Homo sapiens: one gene and its partners. The protein of the gene in region 1 purifies or fractionates together with the protein of each later gene. This does not show direct contact. Each region holds a gene or a part of one and is shown in the gene's direction. Other genes may lie near its edges. The genes, in order: CDKL5, RABL6 and UBAP2.

Region 1 (3,650 bases):
TGAAGCATGAGATCCCCTGATTAGAGATAGGATGCAACCAGGTAGATGAGCCTGGGCCTTTGATTGGCTGCCGTACCAGCTCTATATGTCTTATCTAGATTTCTAGGCTTTTCCATTAAATAATAATACAGTCTTGTTTGAAAAAACCCGAAGAACAGATATGGCTGGACCGGCTCCTCCTTGCACATGCTTGCCCTTCCTGGCCACACCCAGTCACCTCACCTCTAAGCCCCCTTCCCTCCCCAGCCTTATGGTCGCTCTAACTTGAATCCTGTGTGCATTCTCATCCTTTCTTTCAGAGCCAGCCATTAAAATCACTGCGCAAGTTGTTACATCTCTCTTCGGCCTCAAATCACCCGGCTTCCTCAGATCCCCGCTTCCAGCCCTTAACAGCTCAACAAACCAAAAATTCCTTCTCAGAAATTCGGATTCACCCCCTGAGCCAGGCCTCTGGCGGGAGCAGCAACATCCGGCAGGAACCCGCACCGAAGGGCAGGCCAGCCCTCCAGCTGCCAGGTCAGATGGATCCTGGTTGGCATGTGTCCTCTGTGACCAGGAGTGCCACAGAGGGCCCTTCCTACTCTGAACAGCTGGGTGCCAAAAGTGGGCCAAATGGGCACCCCTATAACAGAACAAATCGCTCACGAATGCCAAATCTGAATGATTTAAAAGAGACAGCCTTGTAATTTGTGCTGGTAGGGGGGAGGGGTGGACAGACAAGCCAGTGGGGAGGGGTGGGAAAGGGTGGGCTGGGCTTGGGGCATGGGCCGGGCCAAGTGGTGAGCCAATATTTTCAGCTTTATGAAGGTGTGTGCAATATTGCATGTGTTGGGGCCGTTGAGCTCCTCGCGGCCACAAATGCTAGTCAGGGATCTTAGAGCCACAGGAGTTCCTTAGGGATCGCCACTCCCCACAGGTCTTGTGTGAGAATAGATAGAGTGTGCCATTGAGGAAGAAGAAATTCTTGCCAGTTTCTCCCCTTTACATTCCAGCTTTAGTGCAATCTCTGTTGAACTTGGGAATGCCAGGATGTGTCCTGGCACTGCAAGGGATAGGAAAGTCGTGTTGACCGATGCCCTTACTACATATTTTTTTCTGCCTAGAGTAAATGTGGGGTTTATTGTAATCCAAGAGTATCCCTTTGAAGGGTTAGCAGATGAACTGTATGTCTTAAATTGTTTTCTAAACTTCCATATTTGATAGGATTTGTAACATTTATTTATAATTAATATTGTACTGTTAAAATCATATCTTTTATGTTATAATGTAAAGTTATTTTGAGCTGTTTGAAACATTGTGAAGCAGTGGGACAGCTACAGTAGTTTCTATAAAAACTAAACAGTAACATTTATATATTGCATCAGGAGTATTTTATTCTATATATAATATATATATATGGTAAATATCTGTTTTATAAATATATTCATTTAAAGAAAGTATCGTTATGACACTATCTGCCATATTTTTATACATTTGTGATATGAAGTGAGTATTATACTTCTACTAAAGGGAGTTGAATTGTGGCTACACGTGACTGTAACAGTATGAACCTTGCTCAACTTTGAGGCCCCAGCAGTAGCCTCTAGACATGATCCTTGGTAGCAGACGAGATGCAGCATCTCTTTCCAAACCTGCAGGGGAAGAAAGTCAGATAGGCCAGTGAGAATTCCAGCAGGCCTGGTTTCCGTCCTCACACACTTGGCTCCTGTTTGTGTCCAGGGACGTTACTTGCACACAGGGGAGAATAGATTGAGGCGTTACTCGTGGGTCTTTGTAGAGAGAATGTGCTCTTCCACTTAGCATTAGTGTAGAGCGTAGACCAAAGATTTGCCAGTGAACATTCCTTGTTGTGAGATCATAAGAGGTACCTGTCTGCAGATCTTGCAAACCATCTCTATGCTCCTGAATATTGTCCACTGTCCCGGAGACTCTTGGCTGATGGGGTGTGAGATATATGTGTGGCATTTCTATTTCTGAATGCCTTTTTTGCTATTGCTCTCTCCAATACCATATTTAAAAGGCTCCTGGAGCAATTCCAGATAGATAAAAAATTACTCTATCCATTTTTTTCTTCCTGGGGCTGTCCACTTATGACAAGATTTTCATGCACACCTGTTACGCACACAACCCCCATCAGAACAGGACCTATCTTCCCCTCATCTGATCTCTTTCAGCTCCCAAGTTACTCCCAAGTATCATCAAACCCTTTGGCCATCAAGTGTTATCCTCCCATGCCTCTGGGTCATCCTTGAGGGAAGTCACCTCAGCACCATCATCTATCAGTAGTAGTAGATTTTTGGAATTAGTCTCTGAGCAATAATACTTTTAAAGGTCCCTCCCACCCCTCAAAGAGATAACTTCTCAGTATTTATTACTTGTCCTCAAATTCTGAGTGTCAGCCCCTGCATCAAGTCAGCTATGATCAAAATGTGCTGTTACTGTTAACCCTCCCCCGAGATTTTGAGAATCATAGCTCTGATGATTATGAAGATTATAAAGACTAAGGTCCTAGTTTCCCTGAAGCTTAAATTGTGCACATATTGCATTTTTATATAAATACTATAATGTGTATTGATTATATAGATAGGTCATTTTAAGGTGCTTTTTATTTAATTTTAATGAGTGTAATAGGCACTAAAATGAAACTCGACTGGGTACTATTACTGAAAAAATTTGACTCAAACCAATAGTTTTGCATGCTCTTTAGTTCTTTTTCTGTCTTACTTCTTTCACCAGTTCAGTACTGTTTGGGTAGCTCTGAATTCTGGCTTTTCCAGGCAGCTGCTTGATGATACAAATGAGGTGGACCATCAGCAGTTTTGCCTGGACACTAATGACTCTAAAAGGGTGTGTATTTAACTCTTCTTTTTCATACTAGATCTCTACCTTGTATTCCCCCCTTGCAAACCAGAAACTACACTTTTTTTCTCTGGAAAGACTTCTCACTGTGCTATGCGCTTAGGAACTGCACGGTCCCGTTGCCATGCTGTGGCATTCGAGGCTCGTCACCTAGGGGCTGGTTTCCCATGTTGTCATCCTTGCTAACACTGGGATCTCAGATGTTTGCAGAACATTTCTATTCATGACGGTTCTTCAAAGAAGGGCTAGAATATTTGCCTTCTACCTAGAGCAAAGTAAACCTAATTGTTGAAGAGTCAATACGTACTTTTTGTACTTTCCCAGATTTGAGCCAGAAAATACCTACAGATATCTACAAATGTTTTCAACCAGTGTTTTCGAGGTAGCTCTTTAATCCTCTTCTCAGCTTTTGTCTGTTCTGACTTTTCATCCAATAAGCTGTAAGTGAACTACAATCTGCATTTCCAGCATGCAATTCTCTTCCTGCTCACGGAGGGGGATGCAAAAGTTTTCTCTCACACCTAATGGGCCCTCTCTTAGCTTTTAACTGTTGTTTTCCCCTGTTGATGAAAAATTACTGACATCACAAAGATTGCCATCCATGGTAGAAAGGACTTGATTTAAAGTCAGAAAAATTTGCCTTTTCTTTAGGAAGGGGAATTCATGACATCCATGTCCTATTATCGGCCGTAACTTCCTAAAGAAGAAAAAGGGTGAATGAAAGCTTATGTTACTTTTATGAAAGTATCACTGATCTCCTTTGGAAAAGAAACTCTGCTTCACTGTTTTTC
Region 2 (3,650 bases), on another chromosome or scaffold:
CAGTAGCTGGGACTACAGGCACGCACCACTACGCCCGGCTAATTTTTGTATTTTTAGTAGAGACAGGGTTTCATTATGTTGGCCAGGCTGGTCTCAAACTCCTGACCTTGTGATCTGTCCACCTCAGCCTCCCAAAGTGCTGGGATTACAGGCGTGAGCCACCAGGCCTGGCCCATGGATACTAGTTTTTAACTCAGGAGCAGACTTGTTAAAGTTCAGGTTTCCAACAAAGATTGAAAGACGTTCCAGCCTGGCCAACATGGTGAAACCCCGTCTCTACTAAAAATACAAAAATTAGCCGGGTGGTAGTGGTACACGCCTGTAATCCCAGCTACTCAGGAGGCTGAAGCAGGAGAATCACTTGAGCCTGGCAGGTGAAGGTTGCAGTGAGCCAAGATTGCGCCACTGCAGTCCAACCTGGGCGAGAGAGTGAGACCCTGTCTTAAAAAAAAAAAAAAGGCACAGTTGGTTCTGTGCTTCTCACTCTCCACTTTGTGTTTCTTGGCTTCAGAAGCTGCTGTTTGGTCATTTCCTTCATTTTCCAGGTGCTTCTTTGACAGACCCTTCCTCCTCTTTGTCGTCTTCATCACTTCATCCTCTTCATCATCGTCACCCTCGTCCTTGTCCTCATCATCCTCTTCATCTTCATTCCCAGCCATCCTCTTGGCTTTCCCAGGAACAGCATTTGTAGAAGCTTTCTTTCCTTTGGCTGGTGTTGTTTCCATAGGTGCTGCTTCAGAGCCATCTTCCTCAGCATCGTCCTCATCGTCCTCGTCCTCATCCCCTGAGGCAGGGGCACCCGCTGCTGCCTTCATCACTGCTGGTTCAGAGTCATCCTCCTCCTCATCGCTGTCTTCCTTCTTGGCGTTCTTGCCGTTCTTTGCCCCCTTGGCTGGGGTGTCCCTTCTTGCCAGGAGCTGCTGCCAGTGCTTTGCCTGCTATGGCTCCCTTCTTGGCAGGTGTGGCGACTGCTTTGCCTGGAGTGACAGTTGCTTTCTTGGTGGGTGTGGCACCTGCAGCCTTTTTTGTTCGGGAAACTGTCACCTTCTTGGCTGGGGTTGCAGCAGCCTTCTTGCCTTTCTCCTGAGGTGTGACAGTCTCTTCTCCACAGCTGTCATCTTCTTCATCTTCTGACATTTCCTCATCTTCACTTCCTCCTTCTGCCTCCTTTGGGGGAGCAGCCATTTTCTTGGGGTCACCTTGGTTTTTACCTGCCTCGACACCAAGTAGTCTGAAGCTGCTGAGGATGGGAAATCTTTGCAGGGTGCAGAGTGGGAGAGGAGCAAGGTGTGGCTGACACCAGCTGCAGCACAGGCTGTCAGGGTGGGGAGGTGGCTGGGCCCTTGTAATGGGCCCAGGAGATGCTGCTGGCACTGTGAGAGGGCCTGGTTAGGAGTTAAACCTTCATGCATCTGAGATAAATCATAAGCTCTTCTTGGTATGAAAATGTAAGAAAATTATTCCATATTTTGCAGGAAAGCTGCAGGAATGTGAAGGAGTTAAATTGAATCAGGGTAAGAAAGGCTCAGGGCCTCAAATAGAGCTCTGTGTTTTCTGCATTGTATCTTCTAAAACAAGCTTAGAACAGAGGTCGTGTTCACATCCCGTTTAGTAAAAGAGCAGGTTTACCATGAGGTTAAGTACAGGTAAGTACAGGGCTTCTTAGCGTTTCTTGGATGAATCCTAAAGGTTTTCCAGGAGAATCACTTAGCTTATTGCAGCCAACATTTAAGATTCTGAAGTTAAGCAGAAAAAAAGAAAACCCAAGATCAAGGGACCAGCAGGAGAAAAAAAAGATTCTGAAATTGATTTTATTTATTTAGGGTCTTGCTCTTTCGCCTGAACTGGAGTGCAGTGGCGCAATCTTGACTCACTGCAGCCTTCACCTCCCTGGCTCAAGCAATCTTCCCACCTCAGCCTCCTGAGTAGCTGGGACTACAGGTGCACGCCACCATGCCTGGCTGAGTTTTGTAATTTTTGTAGAGACAGTGTTTCACCATGTTGCCCAGGCTGGTCTCAAACTCCTGGGCCCAAGCGATCCATCTGCCTTGGCCTCCCAAAGTGCTGGCATTACAGGAGAGAGCCACTGCGACCAGCCTAACTTTTTAACTTAAAAGTAGAGGTTAAGTTGGGCATGGTGCCTCACTCCTGTAATCCCAGCACTTTGGGAGGCCGAGGTTGGTGGATCACTTGAGGTCAGGAGTTTGAGACCAGCCTGGCCAACATGGCAAAACCCTGTCTCTACTAAAAATAACAAAAATTAGCTGGGTGTGATGGGCACATGCCTGTAATCCCAGCTACTCAGGAGGCGGAGGCAGGAGAATTGCTTGAGCCTGGGAGGTGGAGGTTGCAGTGGGTCGAGATCGCGCCACTGCACTCCAGCCTGGGTGACAGAGTGAGACTCTGTCTCAAAAAAAAGGGGGGGGGGGTAATTTTTTAAAATAATTAAATCAGATTATTTTACTTGCCTTATTTCTGATGTTACAGGATTTCTTGTAATTAGCTTTTTTAAAAAAGAGTTTGTGGCCATATAGTAGGTGTGTATATGGGTAATTAGCTTTTAAAAGGAGTAAATTTCATTTCAAGGGAGAGAAAATAAGACTCTTCATTCTCAAAATGTGAAGATAATAGAAAACAAATGTATGTTAAAATTGATAAAGATGTAAAAGGAAGCAATCTTAAGACTAGTCAAGACTGTATGCCCATGATATGTGCAATTATTATGTCAATTATAAATACAAAAAACCATGAGCAGACAGTTTATGTTTGAAAAAGAAACAGAATGAAAACCTCTAGAAATGAAAAACATAGTCATTAACGTTAAATCAGTCAGCAGCAGGAGAAGCAGCACGAGAAGCAGCACTAACTCAGCTGAAGAGAGGAGCAGTGTTGGGAAGAGATGTGCGGCCCAGGGAGGAGGCGATGCCAGCCCATGTCCAGTACAAGTTCCAGAAGGAGAAGAGAGCAAGAAAGGAGAAAGGGAAGACTGAGGACTTTCCAGAGTTCATGAAATACAGGAAACTCCAAGAAGTCCAGAGTTTAAAAACATCCACAGCTAGATACATCATTGGAAATTTTCAAAACATTAAAAAGTAAACATCTTAGATGCAACCAGAACAAAAAGACTTCCCTGAGAGGAGCATGCAGTGGACTGGTGACCAGCTCGCAGCAAACCTGTGGCTGAGGGGAGGCCGACGTGGGCTGAGGGGAGGCCGACGTGGGCTGTGGGGAGGCCGACGTGGGCTGAGGGGAGGCCGACGTGGGCTGTGGGGAGGCCGACGTGGGCTGAGGGGAGGCCGACGTGGGCTGAGGTCTCTGTCTGATGAGCACTTGAGAGCCGTGTGACTGGCTCCACTTCTGCCGAAGCTTGAGGCTCACTGTGCAAAGGCTCTTTTAGAAATAAATACTGAAGGTTATTCTTCAGAGAGGTGGAGTTGAGCTCGAAACACAGGAGTGGATTTCAAAAAGCAAAGGGGGCCGGGTGCTGGCTCACACTTCTAATTCCAGCACTTTGCGAGGCTGAGGCAGGTGGATCACTTGAGGTCAGGAGTTTGAGTCCAGCCTGGCCAACATGGTGAAACGCTGTCTCTACTGAAAACACAAAAATTAGCCGGGCATGAGGGCAGGCGCCTGTAATCCCAGCTACTCAG
Region 3 (3,650 bases), on another chromosome or scaffold:
TGAGTCACTCTGCAGGTTCTACTGTTCCTTTTTTTTTTTTTTTTTTTGAGACGGAGTCTTGCACTATCGCCTGGGCTGAAGTGTAGTGGCCCGATCTCAGCTCACTGCAACCTCCACCTCCCAAGTTCAAGCGAATCTCCAGCCTCCATCTCCCGAGTAGCTCGGATTATAGGTGCCCGCCACCACGCCTGGCTAATTTTTTGTATTTTTGGTAGAGATGGGGTTTCACTGTGTTGGCCAGGCTGGTCTCAAACTCCTGACCTCATGATCCGCCCACCTGAGCTCCCAAAGTGCTGGGATTACAGGCATGAGCCACCACCCCAGCCTACTGTTACTTTTTTACAATAATTTTACCTTATATGTATATCCGTAAGCAACATATGGTTTAATAGTGCCCATTTTCAGTCTTATTCTCAATGTAAGAATTGTATGATTCTTCTGATGCTTGATTCTTTCACTCTTACATGCTTGAGATTTATCCATGTTGATTTCTTTTTTTTGAGATAGGGTCTCAGTCTGTTGCTCAGGCTGGAGTGCAGTGGCTCGATCCTGGCTCACTGCAACATTCACCTCCCGGGTTCAAGCGATTCTCCTTCCTCAGCCTCCCAAATAGCTGGGACTACAGGTGCCCGCCACCATGCCTGGCTAATTTTTGTATTTTTTGGTAGAGACGGGGTTTCCTTGTGTTAGCCAGGCTGGTCTCGAACTCCTGACCTCAGGTGATCTGCCTGCTTCGGCCTCCCAAAGTTCTGGTATTACAGGCATGAGCCACTGCACCCAGCCCCCATGTAGATTTCTTTTTTCTTTGTTTTGTTTTATAAGACGGAGTCTTGCTCTTTTGCCCAGGCTGGAATGCCAGTGGCACGATCTCGGCTTCTCAGCTCACTGCAGCCTCTGCCTCCTTGGTTCAAGCAATTCTCCTGCCTCGGCCTCCCGAGTAGCTGGGATTACAGACACCTGCCACCATGCTCAGCTAATTTTTGTATTCTTAGTAGAGACGGGGTTTCACCATGTTGGCCAGGCTGGTCATGGACTCTTGTTTGTTTTTTTTTTTTTTTTTGAGATGGAGTTTGCTCTTGTTGCCCAGGCTAGAGTGCAATGGTGCGATCTTGGCTCACTGCAACCTCTGCCTCCTGGGTTCAAGCAATTCTCCTGCCTCAGCCTCCCAAGTAGCTGGGATTACAGGCAGGCACCACCATGCCTGGCTAATTTTTTTTTTTTTTTTTGCATTTTTAGTAGAGCTGTGGGTTCACTATGTTGGGCAGGCTGGTCTCGAACTCCTGACCTCCAGCGATCTGCCCACCTCGGCCTCCCAAAGTGCCGGGATTACAGGTGTTAGCCATCGTGCCCGGCCCGTTGATTTCTTATAGTAGTATGAGGTTACATTGTAAGGATGTGCCATATGTTGTCTATTTCATTGTTGATGGATATTTGTCTCATTTCCAGTTTTTTGAGATTACCAATTTTACTTGTCCTCATGTGGACATTTGCCACCCTGCCCACAACAAACAAAGTCCATTTTCTCAAGACTACATAACTGAGAGTGGAATTTTTGGTTTGTATGTAGGGTATGTGTAACTTTTACTAAGTAATGCTAAAGTGTTTTCCACATGTTGCACAGTTGTTCTCAGGCTTGTCAGCTGAACCACAGAACACAGAAAGTTGAGTTACTATTTTCTCAAATCTGTCAAGGATGGTACATAATGAATTTCATTCTAGGTGTCTGGAAAAAGTTCAGCTTATACACAGAGTGGATGCCCTAAGAATTGGGAATTCATTCTCAAAGACTGAGTGGTTTAAGAGTTCTACATCCTTGCCAACATTTTATGTTGCCTTTTTAGTTTTAGCCAATTGTAGTGGGATGTTCTAGATATATCTTTCATGAACGCCACATAGCTGGATTTTGCTTTGTTAAGTTAGCAACTTGCTAACTTCTTTTTAATTAATTAGAGTGTATCGCTATGTTGGCTGGGCTGGTCGTGAACTCCTGGGCTCAAGTGATCTTCCCACCTCACCCGCACAAAGTGCTGGGATTGTAGGAGTGAGCCATCAGCTAACCTCTTTAACTAGAGCATGGAGACCATTCATATCTGTTGTAATTACAGATATTTTGGATATATGTCTGCCATTATATTTAGTCTTCTAGTTGGCTGGCCTGTGTGTTTGTTTTCTGTCCCTTTTTTTTTTTTTTTTTTTTTTTTGAGACAGAGTCTCATTCTGTCACCCAGGCTGGAGTGCAATGGCGTGGGCTCGGCTCACTGCAACCTCCGCCTCCCGAGTTTAAGGGATTCTTCTGCCCCAGCCTCCCTAGTAGCTGGGACTACAGGCACGTGCCACCACACCTGGCTAATTTTTTTTTTTTTTTGAGACGGAGTCTAGCCCTTGTCGCCCAGGCTAGTGTGCAATGGCGTGATCTTGGCTCAACGCAACCTCCGCCTCCTGGGTTCAAGTGATTCTCCTGCCTCAGCCTCCCAAGTAGCTGGGATTACAGGCATGTGCCACCATGCCCCCGGCTAATTTTGTACTTTTAGTAGAGTCGGGGTTTCTCCATGTTCATCAGGCTGGTCTTGAACTCCCGACCTCAGGTGATCGCCCGCCTCGGCCTCCCAAAGTGCTGGGATTACAGACGTGAGCCACCGTGTGCGGCTTGTATTTTTTTTTTTTTTTTTTTTTTTTTAGTATTTATTGATCATTCTTGGGTGTTTCTCGCAGAGGGGGATTTGGCAGGGTCATAGGACAATAGTGGAGGGAAGGTCAGCAGATAAACAAGTGAACAAGGGTCTCTGGTTTTCCTAGGCAGAGGTCCCTGCGGCCTTCTGCAGTGTTTGTGTCCCTGGGTACTTGAGATTAGGGAGTGGTGATGACTCTTAACTGCCTTCAAGCATCTGTTTAACAAAGCACATCTTGCACCGCCCTTTATCCATTTAACCCTGAGTGGACACAGCACATGTTTCAGAGAGCACGGGGTTGGGGGTAAGGTTATAGATTAACAGCATCCCAAGGCAGAAGAATTTTTCTTAGTACAGAACAAAATGGAGTCTCCTATGTCTACTTCTTTCTACACAAACACAGCAACAATCTGATTTCTCTATCTTTTCCCCACATTTCCCCCTTTTCTATTCGACAAAACCGCCATCGTCATCATGGCCCGTTCTCAATGAGCAGTTGGGTACACCTCCCAGATGAGGTGGCGGCCGGGCAGAGGGGCTCCTCACTTCCCAGAAGGGGTGGCCGGGCAGAGGCGCCCCCCCCACCTCTCGGACGGGGCGGCGGCCAGGCGGAGGCGCCCCCCAACTCCCCAACGGGGCGGCTGGCCGGGCGGGGGCTGCCCCCCACCTCCCTCCCGGAAGGGGCGGCTGGCTGGGCGGAGGCTGCCCCCCACCTCCCAGACGGGCCGGCTGCCGGGCGGAGACGCTCCTCACTTCCCAGACGGGGTGGCTGCCGGGCGGAGGGGCTCCTCACTTCCCAGACGGGGCGGCTGCTGGGCGGAGGGGCTCCTCACTTCTCAGACGGGTCGGCCGGGCAGAGACGCTCCTCAACTCCCAGACGGGGTCGCGGTCGGGCAGAGGCGCTCCTCACATCCCAGATGGGGTGGCGGGGCAGAGGCGCTCCCCACATCCCAGACGGGGTGGCGGGGCAGAGGCGCTCCC

Evidence for each region.
Region 2: the proteins of CDKL5 (region 1) and RABL6 purify together in Homo sapiens (affinity purification with mass spectrometry; 2 studies listed by BioGRID and IntAct, with this or other methods). This does not show direct contact.
Region 3: the proteins of CDKL5 (region 1) and UBAP2 purify together in Homo sapiens (affinity purification with mass spectrometry, with the first as the bait; one large-scale study listed by BioGRID). This does not show direct contact.

What each region holds. Positions count from the first base shown.
Region 1 is NC_000023.11:18,628,072-18,631,721, forward strand, and holds part of CDKL5 (cyclin-dependent kinase-like 5), read left to right. Parts: intron 1-299; coding exon 300-686; 3' UTR 687-3,650. UniProt on the Homo sapiens protein: Mediates phosphorylation of MECP2. May regulate ciliogenesis.
Region 2 is NC_000009.12:136,814,307-136,817,956, forward strand, and holds part of RABL6 (rab-like protein 6), read left to right. Parts: intron 1-176; exon of another isoform or gene 177-244; intron 245-463; exon of another isoform or gene 464-1,225; intron 1,226-3,650. UniProt on the Homo sapiens protein: May enhance cellular proliferation. May reduce growth inhibitory activity of CDKN2A.
Region 3 is NC_000009.12:34,038,875-34,042,524, reverse strand, and holds part of UBAP2 (ubiquitin-associated protein 2), read left to right. Parts: intron 1-3,650. UniProt on the Homo sapiens protein: Recruits the ubiquitination machinery to RNA polymerase II for polyubiquitination, removal and degradation, when the transcription-coupled nucleotide excision repair (TC-NER) machinery fails to resolve DNA damage. May promote the degradation of ANXA2.